Regions from separate parts of the Homo sapiens genome. Here region 1 is linked to region 2. Evidence: fine-mapped QTL for protein levels in blood plasma. A gene starts in region 2. The other region holds a variant in brackets. All regions are shown on one strand. Distances are from middle to middle.

Region 1 (11,262 bases), 14 kb after region 2:
TAGTAGGGATGGGGTTTCATCATCTTGGCCAGGCTGGTCTTGAACTCCTGACCTCATGATCCACCCACCTTGGCCTCCCAAAGTGCTGGGATTACAGACGTGAGCCATCGTGCCCAGCCTAAATAACACCTTTATTGTGACGCTATTAGAAATGGGTTTCTTAATTTTGTTTTCAGGTTATCTATTGCTAGTATATAGAAATACAGCTGACTTTTTGTACCTTGATCTTGTATCCTGCAACCTTGCTGAACCCGATTTTTAGTTATAACACAAGGCAAGACACCTAACCTTGGATCCCTTAGAATTCTAATGCAAGATCATGTCATTTGCAAATAGTGGTAGTTTAACTCTTTTCTGCATGATAATCTGGACGACCTTTACTTCTTTTTTGTTTTTTAAGACAGGGTCTGTCTCTGTCACTTAGGCTGGAGTGCAGTGGTGCAATCATAGCTCACTGCAGCCTCAAACTCCTGAGTTCAAGTGATCCTCCCACATCAGCCTCCTGAGTAGCTAGGACTATAAGCGTGCACCATCACCCCCAGCTAATTTTTTAATTTTTGTTTAAATTTTTTTTTTTTTGGAGAGATTGAGTCTTGTTGTGTTGCCCGGTTTGGTCTAGAACTCCCAGCCTCAAACCATCGTATCTCAGCCTCCCAAAGTGCTAGGATTACAGGTGTGAGACACCACGCCTGGCCTACTTCTTTTTCTTGACTAACTGGCCTGGCTAGAACCTCCAGTACCATGTTAAATAGAACTAGCAAGAGGAAGCATCCCTGTCTCATCCCTGATCTTAGGGGAAAAGCGCCCAGTCTTTCACCATTAAATAGGATGTGAGCTGTGAGCTCTTCATGGATGGTCTTTATCATGGTGAGGAGTTTCCCTTCTATTCCTAGTTCGTTGAGGGTTTTATCAAGAAGAATAAATAAATTTTAAAGGCTGTTTTTGTTTTTTGGTTTTTGGGGTTTTTTGAGACAGAGTCTCTGTCACCCAGGCTGGAATGCAGCAGCATGATCTCGGCTCACTGCAACCTCTGCCTCCCGGGTTCAAGCGATTCTGCTGCCTCAGTAAAAGCTGTTTGTTTTTTAGACAGGGTCTCAACTCTGTTGCCCAGGCTGGAGTGCAGTGGATCACAGCTCACTGCAGCCTCGACTTCCTGGCACAAGTGATCCTCCCACTTCGGCCTCCGGGTAGCTGGGACTATAGACGTGCACCACACCGGGCTAATTTTTGTATTTTTTTTTTTTTTTTTTTTTTTTGTAGAGATGGGGTTTCACCACATTGGCCAGACTGGTCTTGAACTCCTGGGCTTAAGTGATCTGCCTGCCTCAGCCTTCCAAAGTGCTGGGATTATGGGCGTGAGCCACCACACCTGGCCAAGACTTTTAAATAATGGCTTGAATGGTGGCTTTTCAGCCAGCATGGAGATCATAAAATGCAGAGCGCCTTCTTCTCTTTGCCAGTTATCCCCAGTAGAGTTGGAACAGGGAAGGGGGAGCCACAGATGACTTGGTTTATGTGCCATGTATTACACATTTGATATCATCTGATCATGAAGTGGATATTATTGTTATTCTTATTTTACAGAGGAGGGAACAGAGGCATAGAGCATTAAGTAATTCCCCCAGTGTTGCACAATGCTGGCAAGTGGCATAGCTGGGATTTGAACCCAGATGTCCTAACTCCAGCACCTAGGCTCTTCATCTTGCATGTTAAATGGCTCATTCTTATTCTCATGGCCTCACAGGATTCTGGATGTTTTCTATTCACTTACCATCGAAAATGAAAGTCTGGCAGGTGAGTGTGCACCCTCCTCAGGCCCCACAGCTGACAGGTCTCACCCTAACCAGTCAATATCACCTCCACAGCTCCATTCATTCTCACCAAATGGGGCCCCTCATCAGTTCCTGACTTGACCCAGATCCAAATCTCACCCTTCATCGTACCATCCACCTAGAACCCATCTCTCTGCCAGAGGTGACTTTCAAAGATTGGATGCAATAGTCCCTCCTCCAAGATGGCTCTCCTGTATTGACTCTCAGAGATGACCCATCTCTCCTTTCTCAAGGCCCCACTTAAAGTGGGGTGGTGATAACAGGGAACACATTTCTGTACTTAAGGCAGCTTGTCCTTCTGCTTAACAGCAATGATACTCATTTGCTTTCAGGTTTCTGAGGAGGAAGGAGGAGGAAATAAGTAGCGAAACTCCCTACATGAGGTCTGCAAAAAGTCTCAGAGGACCTCAGAAAGGGAATCTGAAAGGCCTGTCCCTCCCTCTCCTCTTTTCCTCCTTATGAACCCCTTCATATCCATCAAGGTCCATCAAGGTCCGGCTAAAATATCACCTCCTCTAGAAACACCCAGGCAGAAGTTGTCACATTCCTCTTTCCTCCGATAATTTTCTGTGGTCATGACTGTCTCTCCAACTGTACTGGCAGCTTCTTGAAGGAAGGAGCCAGGTCCTATTCACCCCAGCAATGTTTAGTTTGGTGCCAGCAACAGGGTTGCCACTATCCATGTTGGATGACTGGATGGCCAGATGGGAGTGTGCATGGAGAGAGAATGGATGGGAGGATGGACAGATGGAAGGTTGGATTTGATGGATGTAGGACTAGGGGAAAGAGATAGGAGGCTAGGTGAATACATGAATAGGTGAATGGGTGGATGAAATGATGGGTGGATGCAAGAGCAGATGGGATAGATGAGTGGGTGGGTGGGTTGGTGGATAGATGGATGAATGAAAGAGTGGGTAGATGGGTTAGGGTATATGGATTGGAGTGTAAATAGATGGGGGAAGTTGGGGAGTTGGAAGAACAGATGGATAAGGGAGGGTGGGTGGGTATAAGGGTGGATGGATGAAGGTGTGGATGGATGGATAAAAGTCTGGAAGGATGAATAAAAAGGGCAGTAAATTAGAGTTTGGAGAAATGATAGGTGGGTAGACGGGTGGAAGAGTCAACAGGAAAGTGGATGAATGTATGGGTTTATAATTGTGGGAGAATAGATGGATGAAGTTCTCCTGGGGCCAGATTAAGCCATCTGAAGGAGACCCCTTACTTTCTCAATACTCCACCAGGATGACAGCATAAATGGTCCACTGCAGAGCTTGAGGTAAGAGGAATCTTCTGGGTAACCATATTATTACCTAAAAAGCAGAGCTATAGCCAGAATCTGGGGTGTATTGGCTACAAATATAGGCTCTGCAGTCAGATCAACCTGGGTTTAAATCCTAACTCCCATGCCTTCTACATGGCTGACCTTAGGCAAGTCACCTATTCTCTCTGGGCCTTTGACTCCTCATTTATGAGATGAAGCATAACACCCATCTTGCTCTTGGCAATTATGGGTGCTAAAGAAGATGCAAAGTGTCTTGAATAGCTCCTGACCCATAGTCAGTGCTCAGCAAATGGTAGCTGAGAAGAAATTTTAACCAAGACACCACCTGATGGCAGCATCCTTAATTGCAGACAAAATACTCAGGAATATTTGGAAGGAATGAGCTGGGTATAAAGATATTCCAAGCAGAAAGAAGAGAATGAGTAATGTTTTAGAGATAATAACCTGATGAATGGGTCCAGGGATGGGCCCAAGAGATTAGGAAAATCTGAAACTCATTCTTTGAGAGCCAACTAGCAAAGGGAAAATCTGAGGGTAACAACAACGCATCACAAATCAACCTGTTCTTGTTATCACTCCTTCCTGATAAGGTTGTACCAGGAGAAGGTGCGACATCACAGTGGGGAAATCCAGGACCTCCGAGGTAGCATGAACCAGCTCATTGCCAAGCTCCAGGAGATGGAAGCCATGTCCGATGAGGTGAGACGCTGGCCATTCTGCCCCAAACATCTAATTTCTCTTTGTTTGATGTCCTGTTTCCTATACCTCAAGTGTTCTTTCTTGGTTTTATCTCTCATTTTGAGGGAGCACATCCCCCAGTGACTTTCAGGAATACAGTGAAAGAAGTATATTTTTAGTGCTTGTATGTTTAAAAGCATCTTTTTCTATCCTTGTACTTGGTTGATAGTTTGGCTGGGTACAGAATTCTAAATATGAAATAGTTTCTCCTGAGAATGTTGAAGGAAGCCCACCACTCTATTATAGTTTATACTGTTGCTAATGAGAAGTCTAATGGCACTCTTATTATTGATCCTTTGAGTATGATCTATTTTTTATCCCTGGGAGCTTGTAGAAAAATCTTTTTGTCTCTAATGTTCCTCATATAACCTGGTTTGTGGTTTGCCGAGCTTATTAAATCTGTGGGTTGATATTTTTCAATAGTTTTGGGAAACTTTTACCTTTTATCTCTTAAAATATTTCTTCTTTCCATTATCTGTCTCCTTTCCTTGGATTCTAATTACACCTATGCTAGGCCTATGCTTTGAAAGCCTTTAGAGTGCTTTATGTGATTCCTACGCTATTACCTGGTTTGTTTTTTCATTCTTTTTCTGTTATGTGCTTATGTTTTGATATTTTCCTATTAACCTTTCTTCAGGTTTACTAATAATCTTGCATCATTCTGTCTCTCCAATTTATTATTAAATCCATGCATTTAGTTCTTTTTGTTTTTTTAATGGAGTCTCCCTCTGTCGCCCAGGCAGCTCACTGCAACCTCTGCCTCCTGGGTTCAAGTG[C/A]ATCCTACACCTGAGTAGCTGGGATTGCAGGTGCACATTACCACGCTCAGCTAATTTTTATATTTTTAGTGGAGACAGGGTTTCACCATGTCGACTTGGCTGGTCTTGAACTCCTGACCTCAAGTGATCCACCTGCCTCAGCCTCCTAAAGTGCTAAGATTACAGACGTGAGCCACTGCATCCAGCCTTAGTTCTTAATTTCAGATACTGCATTGTTTAGTTCTAGGATATACATTTGATTTTTTTCACAGACTTTAATTCTGTGGTGAAATTCCCCAACATTTCACCTATGTTGTCCATCTTTTCCTTTATTTTAATTAACACATTAGCAACAGTTATTTTAAAAATCCTTGTCTGCTAACTCCAATGTCTGGATCATCTGTGGCCTCCCTCTGTTTTCTGCTTTTTATCTTGGGTATCAATGATATGGTCTTGCCTCTTCAAGTCTAGTAACTTTTAGTGGTTTCTCAACATTGTATACAAAAGAACTGTAGCTGTTCCAAATAATTATAATTCCACTAGAGAAAGTTCCCCTTTTCTTTATAAGGAGGATGAAATAGACTGGTCACTTCTATCTAGACATGCACTAAGCTAGTTCAGACAGACCTGGATCACAATTTTAAAAAAATTTATCCAGAGGTTTTAAGCTTAACTCTTTAGACTCCTTCCCATGCAGCTTCAAAAATTTGACAACTGTCTTAGTGGCAGACTTACTGTATGTTTGAGGCCTCACAAGTCTCCAAATGTGTCTCTCACCCCTGCATGAACGCAAAAATCTCTGGGCCTGGTGGCAGCCTTCTCCGCCAGGAGCAAACTTGGATTCCTGGGTTCTAATTGTGCCCAGGATTGATTTAGTGCCCCCAGGTGAAGTGCAGCTGAAGCACAGTATTGACTCATCACCACCCCTTCTAGGGTAATGGATCTCAAAGTACGGCCCACGGCCCACGTGCCTGCATCATCAGTATCACCTGGGAAAATGTTAACAATTCGAATTAATAGGCCTCACTCAGACCTTCTGAATCAGAGGCTCTGAAGATGCAAACCAATCATCTGTGTTCCAGCAAGCCTTCCAGGTGGTTCTGACATATACCAGAGAGAATCACTGTTCTAAGGCCTTGATCTCTTGCTTGTTGTGTTTTGCGGTGCCCTCCCTCAAAGGGACTTCGTTTCCTAAGCACTGTGAAGATATGAAGTTTTATTCTGCTTTTCAGAAATGTTTGAAGTGGCCTATAGCCTCCTATAGTCTTGAAATTCAGTTAATACCTTGTGAAGAAAAGTGGCCATATTTGAGGCTCCTCAAGTCCCCAGTTTTGTTACTTTAGCTCTTTGTCACCATTAAGAACTTTGCTTCCTTCTCTTTCACCAGTAGCAGCAGCCCATTGTCTGGCCTAAGCCCAGATCCTTAGCCTATGCCTAGAATCGTCAAATACCCCCAGAGATTTAAAACAAACGGACAAAAAATGCCAGCACATCTCAGAATGGTTTTCTGCTCTGCAGAATTTTAGTTCATCTGGTCCTTGTTGCTTCCACAGATGTGCCTATGGGCTGGCCACCCTTTGGAATCCGTCAATCTGGAAACTCCTGGCCTTTGGGCCTAAGAAATGTTATTTATTCATGTGACTAAATTGGTGATTTCCCACAGCAGCATTTGCTCTATTCTTATTTTTGAAGCTCCTGTTGTTTGAATGTCTGCTCCTGAACAATTATAATTTTTTTCATATCATTGGGTGAACATATATACTTATTGATCTTGGCGGTAGATATAACTAGGAGTGGAATTGCTGGATCATGAGGTATGAGTGTGTTCATGTTATTAGATGCTGCCAAATAGTTTTTCAATTTACGCTCCCATGAAAAATATATGCAAATTCCAGTTGTCCCACATTCTCACCAGCAATTGGTGTCATATGTCTTTTTTACTTTATTCTGCAGGGTGAGAAGTGGTATCTCACTATGGCTTTAATTTGCATTTCTGGTTGTTAATAATGTGGAGTGTCTTTTCTTGTATCCAGCGGCCATTTGGATTTTGTCTGTTGCCTTTTGGGGGAGAGTGCCATTTCTTATTGATATGTCGGAGTTCTTCTGTGTTCTGGGTAAACATATTTTATTGGATGTACATATTGCAAATATCTCCTCCCAGGCTATAGCGTGGCTTTTCACTCTCAATGGTGATGAACAAAAATGTCTAATTTTAATTAAGTCCAGTGTATCTATGTTTTTTTGTGCAGTGCTTTGGGTATCCTATTTAAGAAACCTTCACCTGTCCCAACAGAGCCCTTCTGTTTTACCCTCTCCAGAGAATAACTTCTAGTCTTCTACTGGGGAACAGAGAAGTCCACTCAGCTTCTCAGAGTGAGAGGGAGTCCCCAGGGAATATGCAGATTCCTCTTAACTGTCTTAACACCCAATTCTCTACCCCAATTTCAGGGGCACCTAAGGCCACCAATCCTGAGCTTTTTGAGGATGGCCAGTTTCGGATTCAGATTTCTCATTTCTGCTAAATCAGTGGTTCTCAATTGGGGATTATTTTGCCCCCTGGGGAACATCCAGCAATGTCTGGAGATATATTTGGTTGTTACAATGTGAGGAGGAGACGCTACTGGCATCTAGTGGGTAGCCAAGGATGCTGCTAAACATCCTACAAGGTGTAGGACAACTTCCAGAATATTGCTGCTGTCTCCAGGGCCACTGCTGGGACACATTGTGCCTTTTTGCAGACTGGAAAAAACTATCTGTGCTGGGCAGATGAATTCGCAAAATGCACCTTCCTCCAAATCAAAGAACAGGGGAAGAGCTGGGTTTCAGCACCCACACAGGGCCCCTCAACTGGGAACCTTTCTGCTGTGCGCAACGTGCACAACCATACGCAGCAGCCTGGTTTTCTCCTCTCCTGTGCTTCCTGTTCATATGGGTTTGGGTCTTTTCAAATCCCTTTACTGAAGCTGTAATGGAGTGTTGGGAGAAACTAAAATTACGTGATGTCTTCGATCCATCAACTTTACCTAGAAGTTGAATTTTTAAAAGAGTTCACAAAGATAAATTCCATTGTGCAAGATTCAGCAAAATTTGCTAAAACTCATCTTTATCTTTTATTGTCCCAAAGTCCTAGGTCTCCAGTGCCCCTGAATCTCCCCTCTAAGCTCTGTTCAGACAGACCCAGGAGGAGAGACCGTGTCAGTCACTCACTGTCAAGTGAGGCTCTTGGCAGGTGTTTCCTCTGCAGTGGGGAGGGAAGCCCCGCTATGACTTACAAAGGCAGTAAGGTATAGTGATTATAAGGACTGGCTCTAGAGTCAGGCTGCTAGGCTTTGAATTTCATCCCCACCACCTATAAGCTGTGTGACTCTGGTCAATTTACTTACCGTCTTTGTGCCTCAGTTTCTTCATCTAGAAGATGAGTTGTAAGGATTAAACATGGTAATTCATGTAAACTTAGACTAATGTCTGTCCTATGGTGAGTGCTCCCTAAATGTGTGTTGCATTTAAACAAAGGCAGAATCCAAAGGCATGCACTCATCAATGTGCAATCATTAAGTGCCTACTGCGTGCTGGGGATCCAGGATCGGGGATCAACTAGAGCTCGTCCTTGCCCTCAAGCCAGTCCCAGCACCTGTGGATCCCAGAGAAGAAGACTGCACTCAGCCTTGGGGCAGAGAAAGGGTGGGGGCCATCAGGGAAATTCCTTAGGGTTGGCGACCCAGTTTTGAAAAGTAATAGGTGAGATTATTGTCCCCAGTAAACGAGGGGAGGAGTTGGGGATTTTTTTGCCTTTTGGAGCTGTGTAACCTCAGGCAGGTCATCAACCTCTCTGAGCCTCCAGTTTGCACATCAACAAGACAGAATCATAATCACTGCCTTGTAACACCCTGGCTATTGTTCTAGTTACCATTGCCACATAGCAAACCATCCCAAAACTTAGGGGTGTGAAACAACCACTTGTGCTCAGAGATTCTGTGGGTTAGGAATTCAGACAGGACACAGTGGAGATGGCTTGTCTGTGTTCCATGGTATCTGGGGCCTCAGCTGGGAAGACTTGAAGGCTGGAGGTGACTCTACATCTGGGGCTGGAATCATCTGGATTCACTCACGTGACTGGAGATTGATGCTGGCTATCAACTGGGACTCAGTTACGGCTGTTGATCAAAGCACCCATCTGTGGCCTCTCCGTGTGGCCTGGGCTTCCTCTCAACATGGCAGCTGGCCTCCAGGAGTGGCTGTCCCCAGAGAACCAGGCAGTGCTGTATCATTTTTTAGGACTTAGCCCTAGATGTCACACAGCATCACTTCTGCCAAGTCATTAGCCCAGACTGGTGGGAAGGGAGCTTAGACCCCAACTCTCAGTGGGAGGTCACACTGAAAGAAGAGCCTGGAATGGGAGACCTTGTTGCAGCCATTTTTGGAAAACAGAATCTTCCACCACTGTGAAGAGTCTAATAAAAAGAACAGCTGGTATTTATTGTGCACCTACTGTGCTAAGTGCTTTGCCATCCGCATCTGGCAGCAGAGTGGAGCGGTTAAGGGCCTGAACTCTGGAACCACAGTGATCGCTCTGCCTCATACCAGCTGGGTGATCTTGAACAAGCTACACCTTTGTGCCTCAGTATTCTCATCTTTAATACAAGGATGATAATAGTGCATACTTCTTAGGGGTGCTGGGAGGGGATAGGGTGAGCATATGTGAAGCCGAGGATAGCCCTGGCACATAGTAGGGGCTTTACAGATCCACAGTGGGAGGTAGACACGATTATTGTCCCCGTCTTACAGGTGAGAATATCGAGACTCAGAGGGGCAGTAAGTTGCCCAAGGCCCCACAACAGTAAAAGTTGGCCTGACGTCAGAGCCCCTGCCTGAACCTCACTGAGACTCCGGGACCTCCATATGACATCTGGTCACAGTGGACTTGAAAGCACCCAGTGAACCCAGGGTGGGGTCAGGATGGCTTTGTGTCACCTGGGCTTTCACAGAGCCACAGGCTTCCACAGGCAGGGGTGGGCTGTTAGGGAGAGGACAGCGTCCTGCAGCCCCCTGTTACCTCCCGTGGACACGTGGGGATCACAGTCCGTGACAACACACCAGGGCACAACTTGTGTTTTCTGCCTTTTCAGCAAAAAATGGCCCAGAAAATAATGAAGATGATACACGGAGATTACATCGAAAAGCCAGACTTTGCCCTGAAGTCTATAGGTAGGTGACCCCCTTCCCCACCATCTGACTGCCTCAAGTGTCCTGGGAAGCTGTACACAGGGTGGGTTTCAGTTCTGGTGTGGTACTCCCTCTGCCGCTGGGAAGTTCATCCTCTGTTCCAAGCTGGTTTTCTTGCTACAATTTTGTTTTCTCTCAAGGGGTTCTGGGACGGGGTGGGGTATGGGGGTAGGGGTGGGGTGGGGTGGGAGGGAACACGGGAATCCACAGGCCCTCAACATTATAGAAGATCTATAAAGACCCTACTATGTGCTTAGGCTGTTCTTGGCTTTACCTCTCCACCACCCCCACCCACCACTCTTCTCCAAACCCGATGCTGGGCACACAGGTCAGCAAGACAGAGCCATCTCCAACCCGCAGTCAAGAATCAGTGCTTCGGCCAGGTGTGGTGGCTCACGCCTGTAATCCCAGCACTTTGGGAGGCCAAGGCGGGCAGATCACGAGGTCAGGAGATCGAGACCATCCTGGCTAACACGGTGAAACCCCGTCTCTACTAAAAATACAAAAAATTAGCTGAGCGTGGTGGTGGGCGCCTGTAGTCCCAGCTACTCGGGAGGCTGAGGTAGGAGAATGGGGTAAACCCGGGAGGCAGAGCTTGCAGTGAGCCTAGATCGCGCCACAGCACTCCAGCCTGGGCGACAGAGAGAGACTGCTTCTCACAAAAAATAAAAAAAGTAAAATAATAATAATAAAAAAAAGAATCAGTGCTTCAGGGCTGGGCTTGGTGGCTCACACCTATAATCCCAGCACTTTGGGAGGCCGAGGAAGGCGGATCACCTGAGGTCAGAAGTTCAAAACCAGCCTGGCCAACATGGTAAAACCCCATCTCTACTAAAAATACAAAAGTTAGCTGGGCGTGGTTGTGGGCACCTATAATCCCAGCTACTCGGGAGGCTGAGGCAGGAGAATCGTTTGAACCTGGGGGACGGAGGTTGCGGTGAGCCAGGATCGCGCCACTGCACTCCAGCCTGGGCAACAGAGCCAGACTCTGTCTCAATAAATAAATAAATAAATAAATAAATAAAATAATAATCAGTGCTTCCGGAAGAATAAGGCAGGTGGCGAGGAGGGAGGGGACCTGGGCAGAGAGGCCTCCCTCTCAGGAGAACGTTTGGGCTGAGACTTGGTGAGGAGAGAAAGTACTCCAGACAAAGGGAGGCTGTGAGGAGGCCGGTGAGAGCCATTCAGGGACAGCTGGGAGGAGGCAAAGTATGGGCCGCAGGCTGCCCCCAACGCAAACCCCTACCAGGCAGCACCTCCAACTCGGGCACCCCCAGGATCAGTGAGACGCGGGGTCAGATAGTGTCAGCCCAGCCCCTGAGTGACACTGGGCCTCACTTAGCCTCTCAGAGCTGGAATTTCCTCCTCTGCACAATGGGTGTCGGTCGTCATCACAAGACTGTTACGTGGGGAGCGCTTACCCTGTGCCAGG
Region 2 (11,262 bases):
GCCTGCCCTCCACTTGGCCCAGGCAGGCCCCCCACTCCCAGAGTGAGATGGCCCTACCTGGGGCAGGCCCACAGCCCCCAGCCTCAAGACTCCACTTGGGGTCATAGACGTTGCAGCAGTGGGTGTGAGCACTGGCTGTCCGGAGCCTCTCACTGTGAGACCCTGGGCCAGTCATTTACCATGCTGAGCCTCAGTTTCCTCTTCTGTAAAATGGACATAAGGTTGGTGGGACCTATTTCGCAGGGCTGTGCTGAGTTTCCTGTGAGATAATCATGTGAAAACACCCAGCACAGAGCCTGGCCCACAGGAAGCAATCATAAAATCATAGTGTCAGGGTAGAGAAGCTAGATAAGAGACCCCTCTGACTGCACAGCTCATGGTGTGAAAATTAAATGCAGTAACATACAAGATGCCAGGCACACAAAAATAACTCTGATCGTTATGCTTATTGAGCGTCTCTCATGTGCCTTGCCCTGGGAAAGAGAGGACAGTCATTATAATCACAGCAATGAACCCATTCACCAAACCGTCATTGGCACTTTACAGAAGTTCATCCCATTTTACAGATGAGGAAGCTGAGGGGGTAAACAAGCCAAGTGACTCTGCCCAGTTGCAGAGCTGTTGAGCAGGGTTCTCAGAAATGTTCTCACTATCTTGCTCCCCTCCAAGCGTGAGGGGAGAGAGAGCAACTGGACAGAGAGTCAAGAGGCCTGGATGAGGGCCCTGGAGGAGTTGCTACCCCCCGTCCCCTCACTGTATCCCTCGGAGCATCCCCAAAACCCTTCTCACCCCCTAACAAGGAGATCCGCTCACCGAAAGACCTTGAAAGTAAAATTAGCTGCTGCCAGCAGGCGCACTCCGAAACCAGCAATGAATTTCAGGTGGAGGCGGGGCACATGGACATTCAGAATCCGGATCCTGCAGGGTAGTAATCAAGGTGACAGAGTGGCCCCCATTAAACCATGGGATCAACTCTGGGGTGGGTGCTCTGAGCCATACCCACACGATGTTATAAAGAAGGGCTTTCTGACAATTGGAACCATGAGGTAAGGGGAAGATGGTGAGTTCTCCATCACCACGGGGCATGCAAACCAAGGTTGGACACCAGCTGGTAGGGAGAACATGCAGAGGGGCCCCCGCTTCGGGCAGGACTTGGGTGAGATGATTGCTCAGGTTTTTGACAGTTTCCGACCCCTGCCTGGAAAGTTGGGAAGGTTGGAAAAGAAAAACTTCAGGAACCACAGAAGGCAGAAATCCTCTCTCTGGTATCCTAGTCAATGTCTGCAGCTCGTAGCCTACAGCAACAGAAGCTCCCCCACTTCAAAGCTCCAAGCACTCTCCAGCTAACCTGTGATTTATTTTATTTCCTAAATGAAAGTCATTTCTGCACTGTACAGTTCAGGTCCCCGTACAGAAGCTGCGTCTGTGCACTCAACAATCCTGGGTTCAATCCTGTGTCTACAAACAAGAGCCCCGGGCACTGTTTTCAAACAGCCCCATGGTGTCCATTGTGTGGCCAGACCACAAGTGATTTAGGCATCTTTGGTCGCTGGGTATTTATGTCCAGTTCTCCACCTTTATTAACCATGCCATGAACTGCATTTCAGCTCTTCCTAAGGGATCTCAAACTGGTGGCCCCCAAGCCAGATGTTTTTTTCACCATCCACCCATTGTTCCAGGGTCTTAAAGTCTTAAATATTTTTTGTTTGTTTGTTTGTTTTTGTTTTTGTTTTTTTGTTTTGAGACAGAGTTTCATTCTTGTCGTCCAGGCTGGAGTACAATGGCACAATCTTGGCTCACTGCAACCTCTGCCTCCCAGGTTCAAGAGATTCTCCCACCTCAGCCTCCTGAGTAGCTGGGATTACAGGCACACGCCACCACTCCCAGCTAATTTTTGTATTTTTAGTTGAGATGGGGTTTCACCATGTTAGCCAGGCTGGTCTTGAACTCCTGATCTCAGGTGATCCACCCACCTCGGCCTCCCAAAGTGCTGGGATTACAGGCGTGGACCACTGCGCCTGGGCTTTAAATGTTTTTTCATTAGTTGCTATCATTCCAAATTTGATGGATTCTAGATGTATATCTTCTCTTGGAAACCCAAAGATCTGACAGTAGTGAGCCCTAGTTCCTATGTGGAAGGTGACTGTTGACCAGCCCAGGGGTGTCTAAGTTTGGGATGCTCCACATCCCTATGCCTTTAGTTTCTGCATTAAGCAGAGTAGGGTGGAGGTAAAGGAGGCTCAGATTCGTGTCTAAATTCAGTATCCAGTTTCTAGAAACAGAGGGTCCTGCCAGCCCTGGGGACCCAGGAGCCACTCTTAGCCCTTGAGGGCAGAAATTCACTAATTCAGAGGCACCAGGCCCGGCTTCTCCATCTTGGGTCCCTCTCTTAAATCATCTTGTGACCACTCACCTTGTGGGAGGGAGCACTCACCTTCAGTGGAGAGTGCTCATCTGGTGGACTGGAACACTTTGCCCCGTGGATAGGAGCATCTGCCCAGCAGGCAGGAGCACATGCCCGGTGGACTGAAGCACCCACCTGGCAAGCAGGAACACTCCACTTGGTGGCAGGAGCACCTTCTCTGGAGGAGGGGAGCACTCACCTGGTGGGCTGAAGCGCCTCTCCACTCCAGTCCAGGAAATGAGGGACAGTGACCTGCAGGGCCCGCTGGAGAGGGGCTTTCCCAATTTCAGACACTGTGGGGCCAGGGTAGAGTGAGGTCAGGGTGCCCTCGGGAACCACCAAGTAGCAAGAACACACTGCCTGCCATCTACCCTGCACCTTGGGCAGAGGGTACTCAGACTGGAAGGGGTAGGCTTACTCCAAGCATATGGGGAGGGCAGCTGACTCCCCATGAGCCCACCTTGGGTGCACCACTCGCATCAGGCTCTCTCCACCTGGGCATGACCTCCTTCTCCCACTCTGCCTCTCAAAATCCTGCTGATTTACCCCGTCCTTCAAAAGCAACAAAATCCTTTGCCCTCTTGCAAGGTTCCAACCAGATCCCATCTCCTCTGGGAGCCTTCCCTAAGTTCCCAAGCAGAAGGGGCATCTCCCAGTCATCCCTGGCCTGCTGTGGAGGCGCCCATGGGAGCAGAGGGGACGTCCCTTGGGAGGGGAGGGGACAGCCTCACCTGGGGGCTGAGGACTCAAGAGTCTCTCAGATCCTGGTTTCAAACCGCAGTGCTCACTGCTACTCACTGCCTGTGTGGCTACTCTGTGCCTCAGTTTCCCCATCTATACATCTGCAATGATTCTAATGGTATCTGTCACATAGGATCATTGTAAACACTCAGTGCACAGCAAATGCTAGCTTCTACCATTGCTATTTATTTTTGTAATAATAGCGGCAATCGTTTATGTTGTGATCCTGTAGTGCCAGGCCCTGTTCTGAGTGCTTTACTTTTCCTGTTATCGTGCCCAGTTTACAGAGAGGTGAGGGCACCTGGCCAGGGAAAGCTGGCTTTGGACCGAGGGACCTGGCTCCCGAGCCTCTGGGCATCCTCACTCACCTGTGCTGCTGAGCCCCAGAGAGGTGCTAATTAAGCAGGAGTTGAATTAGAATAAGAGGTGATGGTGCTGGAAGGGAGCTTCAAATGAGGAGTCAAGAGGCCTGCCCACTGCTCAGACTCACTGTGGGAACTTGAGGAGTCCCTGCACCTCTCTGGTTCTTAGTCTCCCCCAACAAGAAGCATAAAGGCGGTGGTTTCCATGTTTCCCAGCACCCCTCTCCCACCTAACCATCTGCAGCTGAGCTGGAACTCACACCCAGACCTCAGACTCCATCTACAGTGCTCCCTTGACGCAGGGTTTGAACTCTGGGGCTTGCAGGATGGGGTGGGGAGGACACTGGAAGTAGCCACTCAGCCCAGCCTGGGGAGCAATGCGTCCAGCGTGGGCCTCCAGCCAGATTTCTGCCAAAAACAAACACAGGCAGGCAAGCTGGGGAGGGCTCCCTGGGGACAAAGGAGGCTTGCACAGGATGGGCAGAGGGCAGGAAGGCGGCGGAGGGCGCGGGCCTCATGGCCCTACCTGCAGGCATCCATGAATGGCTCCATGTCATGCTCTGGCACGGATCACTGACCCCTTTCATTGCCTGCCCATCAGCCCGGATATGAGGTCCCGGAAGGCTGTGTTTACCCAGGGGTGGGGGAAACCTGCTACTTCCCTGAGCCACTGCTTCATGTCCTGGGCCACTGAAGGTCCCATCTACTGTCTGACCTGACTTTCTCACACTGTAATCTGAGTTTGGCCTTGGGGGAAACCGCTTCTGATCTCCTGGCTTTGGTGGGAAACCAAATTCTCACCGGGAGGCAACTCGAGGTGAATAAACATGTTTGTGCTGGCGTCCTGGACCTTGGCAATGTCTGTCCCTCCCTGGGGCTAAGTTTCTTCATTGTGCCCTCCTTAGGGGATTGGGGCAAGACTTGGAAGGATCTAGCAGCACAGCCGTAAGACAGAGCCCTCGCACAAGTGGGACCCAGAGAGCGGATGGTTCTCTCACGCTGAGCTCAGAAGGGATATAACTTTAGAACACTCCTTGCATCACGGTGCTAGACAGACCTCTCCCAAGAACACACGTGCGTGCACACACCACATACGCAAACGTGTACACCCAGGGTGAACAGCCGTACCTGTGCACACACATCCAGGCAGCATCATGGGCTTGCACCCTCCCCGACACTTAAGTACACACGTGGGCACAGCTCTATGAAATTTCAAACTCATAAGTAGACACACACAGGTAAAAATAGCCCCTCAAACCGACCTATGCCCACATCACCAAAGCATGTGAGCAAGTCACATGTGCACACTTGCACACTGGCCACATGACGTACTCCCCCCTCACGCATTTATGTAATAAGCATTTGTTGAGCAGCGCCATGTGTCAGGCACTGTCTGGGTGCCAGGGACACAACTTCCAATTAAAATCTGGGTCCTCATGGGCCTTTTGAGTTCACAGCTACGCACACACACTTAGGATTGCACACGCATGTACAGGCTCACAGACACTCACTGGGTAACACACCGCTTACCGTAGCTCAATGCTGCCTTGTTGAGTCGGACCACGGTGCCTGGCGTGGAGGCACCGACCACGGGCAGCAGCAGTGCCAGCAGCAGGCCCAGCCTACTTGCCCAAGCCATGGCTGCCCTGGCCGCTGCCCACAGGATCTGTGGGCTGGGGTAGAAATGAGCATCAGGGAGCTCAGCCAAAACAGCCCACCCCTGAGCCACCCGAACCCCACTCCAGCCTGGAGGGAACAAGCCCTGACTGGTGATCCCAGCCCTGCCCCAGGCCCACAGACATCAGTTTTTGCATCTCTGCATTGGGAACCATCACCTTGCCTTGCTTGCTTCATCAGGAATCATGGGGGAGTCCCTTCTGGAAATGACCCGCAATGCCCAGAGAAGAAATGGTCTTGCCTAGGGCCACACAGTGGACTGGGACCAGGTGCAGGACCCAAGCCATGGCATAGAAGGATGGTGAGACTCCCAAACGGGGAGACTGAGGGTAGTTTCCTGTCCCAAGAAGATGCCCAGGACTGTATCACCTGATGCCGGAGTCCAGCCCCGTGTGACAGCCAGCTTGGTGTCCAGCTGTCCACCAAATTCAGCCAGGGGAGGACCCAGGGTGGCTCCTGTCCTCATCCCCTCCTGGCCAGGTGGTAAATGGCCTAAGAGTAGGCCTCTCACATGGCCCCCATCCTCTCCTGACTCAGTCTGGCCAAATAGGCAGATCTGTGTCTGACTCAGGGAGAGGGAGCCAGGCAGGAGTGAGGGACTGCGGCTCAGGTGGGTCTGCTGAGACCCAGGATGGCGGCACTTGCCCAGGTCCTACAGCAAGGCCAGGGGTGGAAGGACCCTTCTGCAGAGGGTGGCTGGAGGTAGCATCCCCACTGAACAGATAGAGAAGCCAAGCCTCCTTGGAAGTGGTGTACCAGCCCAGCCCCATGCCTACCTCAGGTGGTTCCTGAGACAGGTGAACTCTCAGCCCCAGGGTAGCCCTCCTCTGCCCGAGGCAGGCAGATGCAGAGGCTACTTTATAAGGCTCCCAATGTGCAGAGTCCACTGGGAAGGGACCCAGGGAGCGGCGAGTTTGCTTGTGGTTGCAAGTGTTTTCCCTGCAAACATGGCCTTTGCCAAAGTGTCTCATCCCACATGTGCGCTGGGGCTGCCACGTAGCCAGTAGCCAGGCCCAGCTCCCAACCACTACAAGCCCCTGGGGCTAGGCAGCTATGGCCTTAGTGAGGGCCAGGAGATCTCTGGAAGGAAAGCTGCTTCTAGGAGGGTATCTTATCATGCCCAGCCAAGGCCTGGGAGGATGGGGCCCATGAGGACCCCATCCCCCCTCCCATAGGCAAGGGGATGGCTGCAATGACCCCTCAAGCCTGGTACCTCCAAGCTCTCTCGGAAACATGACCCTTTTAGGAGGGGCAGAAGGCTACCTGAGCACCATCCTCAGTCATTGACTGAGCCCTGACCCTGTCACATATTCACACACTGAGTCCTGACCCCAGTTACTGAGCTCTGACCCTGATCACATGCTGAGCCCTGATCCCAGTCACAAACTGAGCCCTAACTCAGAAGGGAACAGAAGAGAAAGTGTGCGTGACCTGTCCCCACAGCTTAACATCCCAGCCTCTCTCCAAATGCACATTCCACTCACAATGGATTAGTCCACGGTCTCTTTCCACATTACAAACGTCAGCCTCCGCCTTGGCTGGATGGGACCCAAGGAACTGTGTGTGCGCATGAAGGAATTTGCATATGCACATGTGTGGATGAGGGTTGTGTTGATACATGCATGTGAGTGTGTGTGCATAGTCACATGTACGGGGAAAATGTGTGCTCTTATGTGTGAGTGTGGACATGAAATGGGCACGTTGGCATCTTGGTTTATGGTGTTGTGTGTCTATTCACACAATCCAACAGGACCACAGAGGTGGGGAGTTTTGTGTACATGTATGCATGTGTGGGCTTGGCCTACTGAGTGTTTGTGGGTCTGTGAGTGTGTGGTGTTAGGTGCATGTGTGTATGCAAGTGGACTGTTTCCTGGGATGGGGAGGTACATGTATATATGTTCTTGTGTGTGTGCATATATGTGTGCACAGCAGGCGATGGCCTTTCCATTTTTCTTCATTGGCACAGGATGACTTGGGGCCTTTCCCCAACTCCAGGGCACTCTTTGACTCCCACTGACCCCACACCAGCCCAAATATCAGGCCCAGCTCCCAGGCCCACCCTGTGCTAGGCCTCCACCAGTGTCTACAAAGCTGACCACAGACACCATCAAGCCCTCCCCTGAGCAGCTGGAGCTCACTTGAACCAGCCCTGCCTCCCAACCAGTGCTCCCTTGCCCCTATTCTAGACGCAAAGAGGAATGAGAAGAGCCTGCTGTGAGCTCCCTGACACCCTGCTCCTGGCCTTGGTCTGTCCACCAATGCCCAAGACCGGCCCCTCCTGCGCCCTCACCATAGCTGATGCAAACAGCAGACTCAGTGGACAGAGGCGCAAATATTGACCAAACCCACTCTTGGTGTTTGCTGTTGGCCTGGACACTTCCTTTTCTTAAATATTTCCAGCACAAGAGCCATTTGGGTGACAGCCAGTAGACATAAAAGAGGGAGATTCTCACCAGCCCATCCCAGATCTCAACCGGCTCCTGACAGCAATGGCAAGCACCGTTTGGTGAGCACCTGCTATATGCAGAATGTTCTGCCAGCCACTTTGCCTGCATCCGCAGGGATGGGAGCTGGTTCTGCTCAGCCCTGTTTCCAGCACCTGGACCATACTAGGTGCATAAATATTTGTTGAATGAATAAATGAATGAGTATACATTTGAAAGACCCTTGTAACAATTGTAGTGGTGGCATTTCAGAGTTTCCCCTTCACTGAATATTCTCAGGGGTTTTGCATTGGTGTCCTGTTGCTGCAATAATGTATTATCACAAACTTAGTGACTTAAGACACAATTTATCATGTTACCATTCTGGAGGTCTGAAGTCCCAGATGGGTCTCCCTGGGCTAAAATCAAGGAAGTATTGGCAGGGCTGTGTTCCTTGCTGGAGGCTGTAGGAGAGGAATTGTCCACCTGCCTTTTCCAGCTTCTAGAAGCTGCCCTTATTCCTTGGCTCCTGGTCCCTTCCTCCATCTTCAAAGCCAGCATGTTGGGCTGAGTGCTTCTTGTGCTGCCATCTCCCTGCCTCCCTCTTCCATTTTTAAGGACCCTTGTCATTACATTGCACCCACATGGGTAATCTAGGGTATTCTTCCCATCTCAAGATCGACTGATTAGCAACTTAAATTGCTCTTCTAGTTTTAACTCCCTTTTGCCTTGTGACTTAACATATTTACATGTTCAGGTTTTAGTGTGTGGGCCTCTTTGAGGGACCATCGTACCACTTCCCATTGGTAATTAGCCTGCAATTTTAAGCAACTGCCACCAGGGGGCAAAAGTGAATTCATTTTAGCTTTGCTATCCAAATAGTCAAGCTCCCTACAGGCAGGGTGAACAGAAAAAACTTAGCCCGACATTTCCACTCGGTTATGCTTTTATTTTCCCCAGTAAAAAAGTAGAACTTTATTTTTGGACATAGAGTCTCACTCTGTTGCCCAGGCTGGGTGCAATGGCGCGATTTCTGCTCACGGCAACCTCTGCCGCCTCCCGAGTCAAGCAATTCTCAAGCCTCGGCCTCCCGAGTAGCTGGGATTACAGGCACACACCACCACACCCAGCCAATTTTTTGTATTTTTAGTAGAGAAGGGGTTTTGCCATGTTGCCCAGACAGGTCTCAAACTCCTGAGCTCAGGCAATCCACCCGCTTCTGCCTCTCAAAGTACTAGGATTACAGGCATCAACCACCGGGCCCAACAAAAAGTAGAACTTTATTAAAGCAACAACACATGCAATGTTATTTTGTGTTATGCACAATGTCCACCAGTGAGAAGCTCAGCATTACAAAATGCATTCAGGTGCAACCTAAGAAGGTGAAAAGCCTGGGAAGCTTGGGGCAGGAAGGGATCTAGGAAACAAGGAAAAGCATGGTTGGGTTACTGGAGCTTCAGCTCTCGCCCCTGTCCAGCTTCTGAGACCCCAGCATGGCCCTTCCTGTCTTGATGCCTCAATTTCCCCATCTTAAGAAAGGAAAGTGGGTCACAATGGCTTCCTCTGGGGGAGGTTCTAGGGCCAAGCTGGAGACTAGCCCCATCCCCTGCCCCTCCACCCACCTGCTCTGTGAGGTCACAATGCCAACTGCTCCACTGATCCTGGCAGATTCCACTTGGCACTTTTCAGGGGACATTCAGAGGCATCAGCCCCTTCCTCCTCACCAGCTCCCAGAGTTCCCATCTCCATCCCCAATCCTAAAGAAGGAAATCGATGCCACGGTCCTCAAGGAGCCCTGGGGACCCAGGCGCCCTACTCGAAGATGTGGCCCACAATCCCAGACCCCGGAGGTGAGGATGGCAGCCCCTCCCTTTGCCCAGCCCTTTACAGTTTACAAAATGCTGCCCCTCCACCCTGTCCTTGGAGATGAGTGGCATTGTCAACTGTACTGTACAGAGACAGCCACCAAGACCAGAGAGGTTTGGCAGTGGTATTCCCAAAGTCTCCCAGCCAGGAAGTGGTGAAGCAGCCATCCTTCCAGCACGCATTTATTGAGCATCTACTGTGTGCCGGGAAATGCACAGAGGACGGGGAACACGGTGTGGCACCAGTCTGATGTGCTCCGTTCCCTCATGGAGCTCACGGTCTAGTGCAGGAGACTGGTATGAAAGAAGGAAACAAGTATTTCGCCATCTTTATCTGTCAGAAAGCCTCTGAATGCAGGTGACAGAAATTCCAACTTAAAATGATGCCTATCTCTGGGCACCCAAATCTGGGTGTATATCCCAAGAGAGTATACCAAACAATCCCCAAGGGTGAGAAAAGAAATAACCAGGCTAGAATGTATGTCTTTCATCCTCTTTTAATTTATATTATTCAGGAATGTTACCATAAATCTGTACATTTGGGAAGGGTAAACAATGTATTAGTACAATTGGGTGTATATATAATTTATTAATAAACCAATATAAATACTCTGAGGTGGTATAAACAAAAATGTTTAAAGACCTTTGACTTAAGAAATAAGGGAAAATTTTAAATCTCACATATCAAGAGGTCCCAAGGTGCAGGGGGCTCCGGAGTGTGTTAATTCCTCAGTTCTGCCACCCAAGACCCAGGTTCCTGTCATCATTCTGCTCTTTTAGCCCCCTCTCATGGTCACAAGATGGCCACCACAGTTTCAGGTGTCACGCAGAAATGTGGCGTCTAGGGGAAGGAGAATAAGCATCGTTTTCTGTGGGTCTCATTTAGCTAATCCTAAACCTAACTTTTCCCCCAAGTCCCTTACCTCGTAACCACCCCCCTACCTCACCCTACCTCACCCCTGCAGACTTCCTCACCCTTGAACCAATCACAGCACAGGGAATGGGAGCACGACAGCAGGCTTCGACCAATCAAAATGGCCTAAAATCACATTGGGTAGGAGCAGACAAAGGAACAAAACCAAGCTTCTGCCAACCTCGGGGACATGGCGACAACCGCCTGTGACTGCCACAGCAACCTGGGTCTTTTCCTTGATGGATACCTGGATTTGGGGTCAGCCAGACCTGGGTCTGTCCCTGAATCACAGGCTGGTGGTGTTGGGAAACCTTCTCTGTACCTCAGTTTCCCAATCTGGAACGTGGTATGCACATTCCAAGGACACTATGTTCCTCATAATTGTAAAATGCGACTATGAATCTTATCATCCCCAGGATTGCCCAGCGAGGCCGGAACACCAGCAGGATGGCAGAGGACACCTCCCCAAACATGAGTGAGCAAGGACAGGTGCCCTGGTATTTTCATGGGCAGCTGAGGGGCTGAGGCTCAGGGATGTCAAACGGGCAACCTGGGGCTACCCAGCAAGGGGCAGGGGCAGGGATGTTCGCACCAAGCTCTGGGTGCTCCCTAGGTCTCTGCAAGCACCAAATCAAGAGGCTGGCAGTGACATGACAGTCCTGTGCTCTCTGCAGATGACAACATCCTGTTGCCTGTCCGCAACAATGACCAAGCCCTAGGCCTGACTCAGTGCATGCTGGGATGTGTGTGTACGTATATACTGAATAATCACCTTCGTCATCAATATGGGTCTGGGGAGAGGGTCCAGCCTCGGCCCAGGCTGACCTGGGGGTGGCAATGCCTGCCCTGGACTGCAGGGGTGGTGGGGAGCTGCAGG

Direction of the effects. Positions count from the first base shown, and alleles are read on the strand shown. Strength reflects both the effect of a copy and how common the allele is.
For the plasma level of the protein whose gene starts at base 6,017 in region 2, allele A in region 1 goes with a higher level than allele C (strong association).

The links. PIP is the chance, under the fine-mapping model, that this variant and not a neighbour inherited with it causes the effect. The UK Biobank Pharma Proteomics Project read protein levels with antibody pairs (Olink). The fine-mapping took linkage between variants from a reference panel, not from the people measured, so its PIPs are less certain.
Region 1: its variant is fine-mapped to the plasma level of the BPIFB2 protein (UK Biobank, PIP above 0.99).

The regions. Positions count from the first base shown.
Region 1 is chr20:32,988,170-32,999,431 of GRCh38, reverse strand. SUN5 (Sad1 and UNC84 domain containing 5) reads left to right here. Exons shown (of 13, transcript NM_080675.4): 6 at 1,745-1,794; 7 at 3,074-3,108; 8 at 3,705-3,813; 9 at 9,734-9,812. Among named protein-coding and RNA genes, the nearest start is that of SUN5, 11 kb to the left of the region's middle. The variant C/A (reference allele first, on the strand shown) is at 4,629.
Region 2 is chr20:33,002,459-33,013,720 of GRCh38, reverse strand. It overlaps BPIFB2 (BPI fold containing family B member 2), which reads right to left and starts at 6,017. Exons shown (of 16, transcript NM_025227.3): 1 at 5,961-6,017; 2 at 5,038-5,180; 3 at 2,604-2,697; 4 at 814-918. The coding sequence starts at 5,146. SUN5 (Sad1 and UNC84 domain containing 5) reads left to right here and starts at 9,288. Exons shown (of 13, transcript NM_080675.4): 1 at 9,288-9,457; 2 at 10,802-10,860; 3 at 11,060-11,134. The coding sequence starts at 9,381. RefSeq lists enhancers at 4,642-5,636, 5,637-6,632.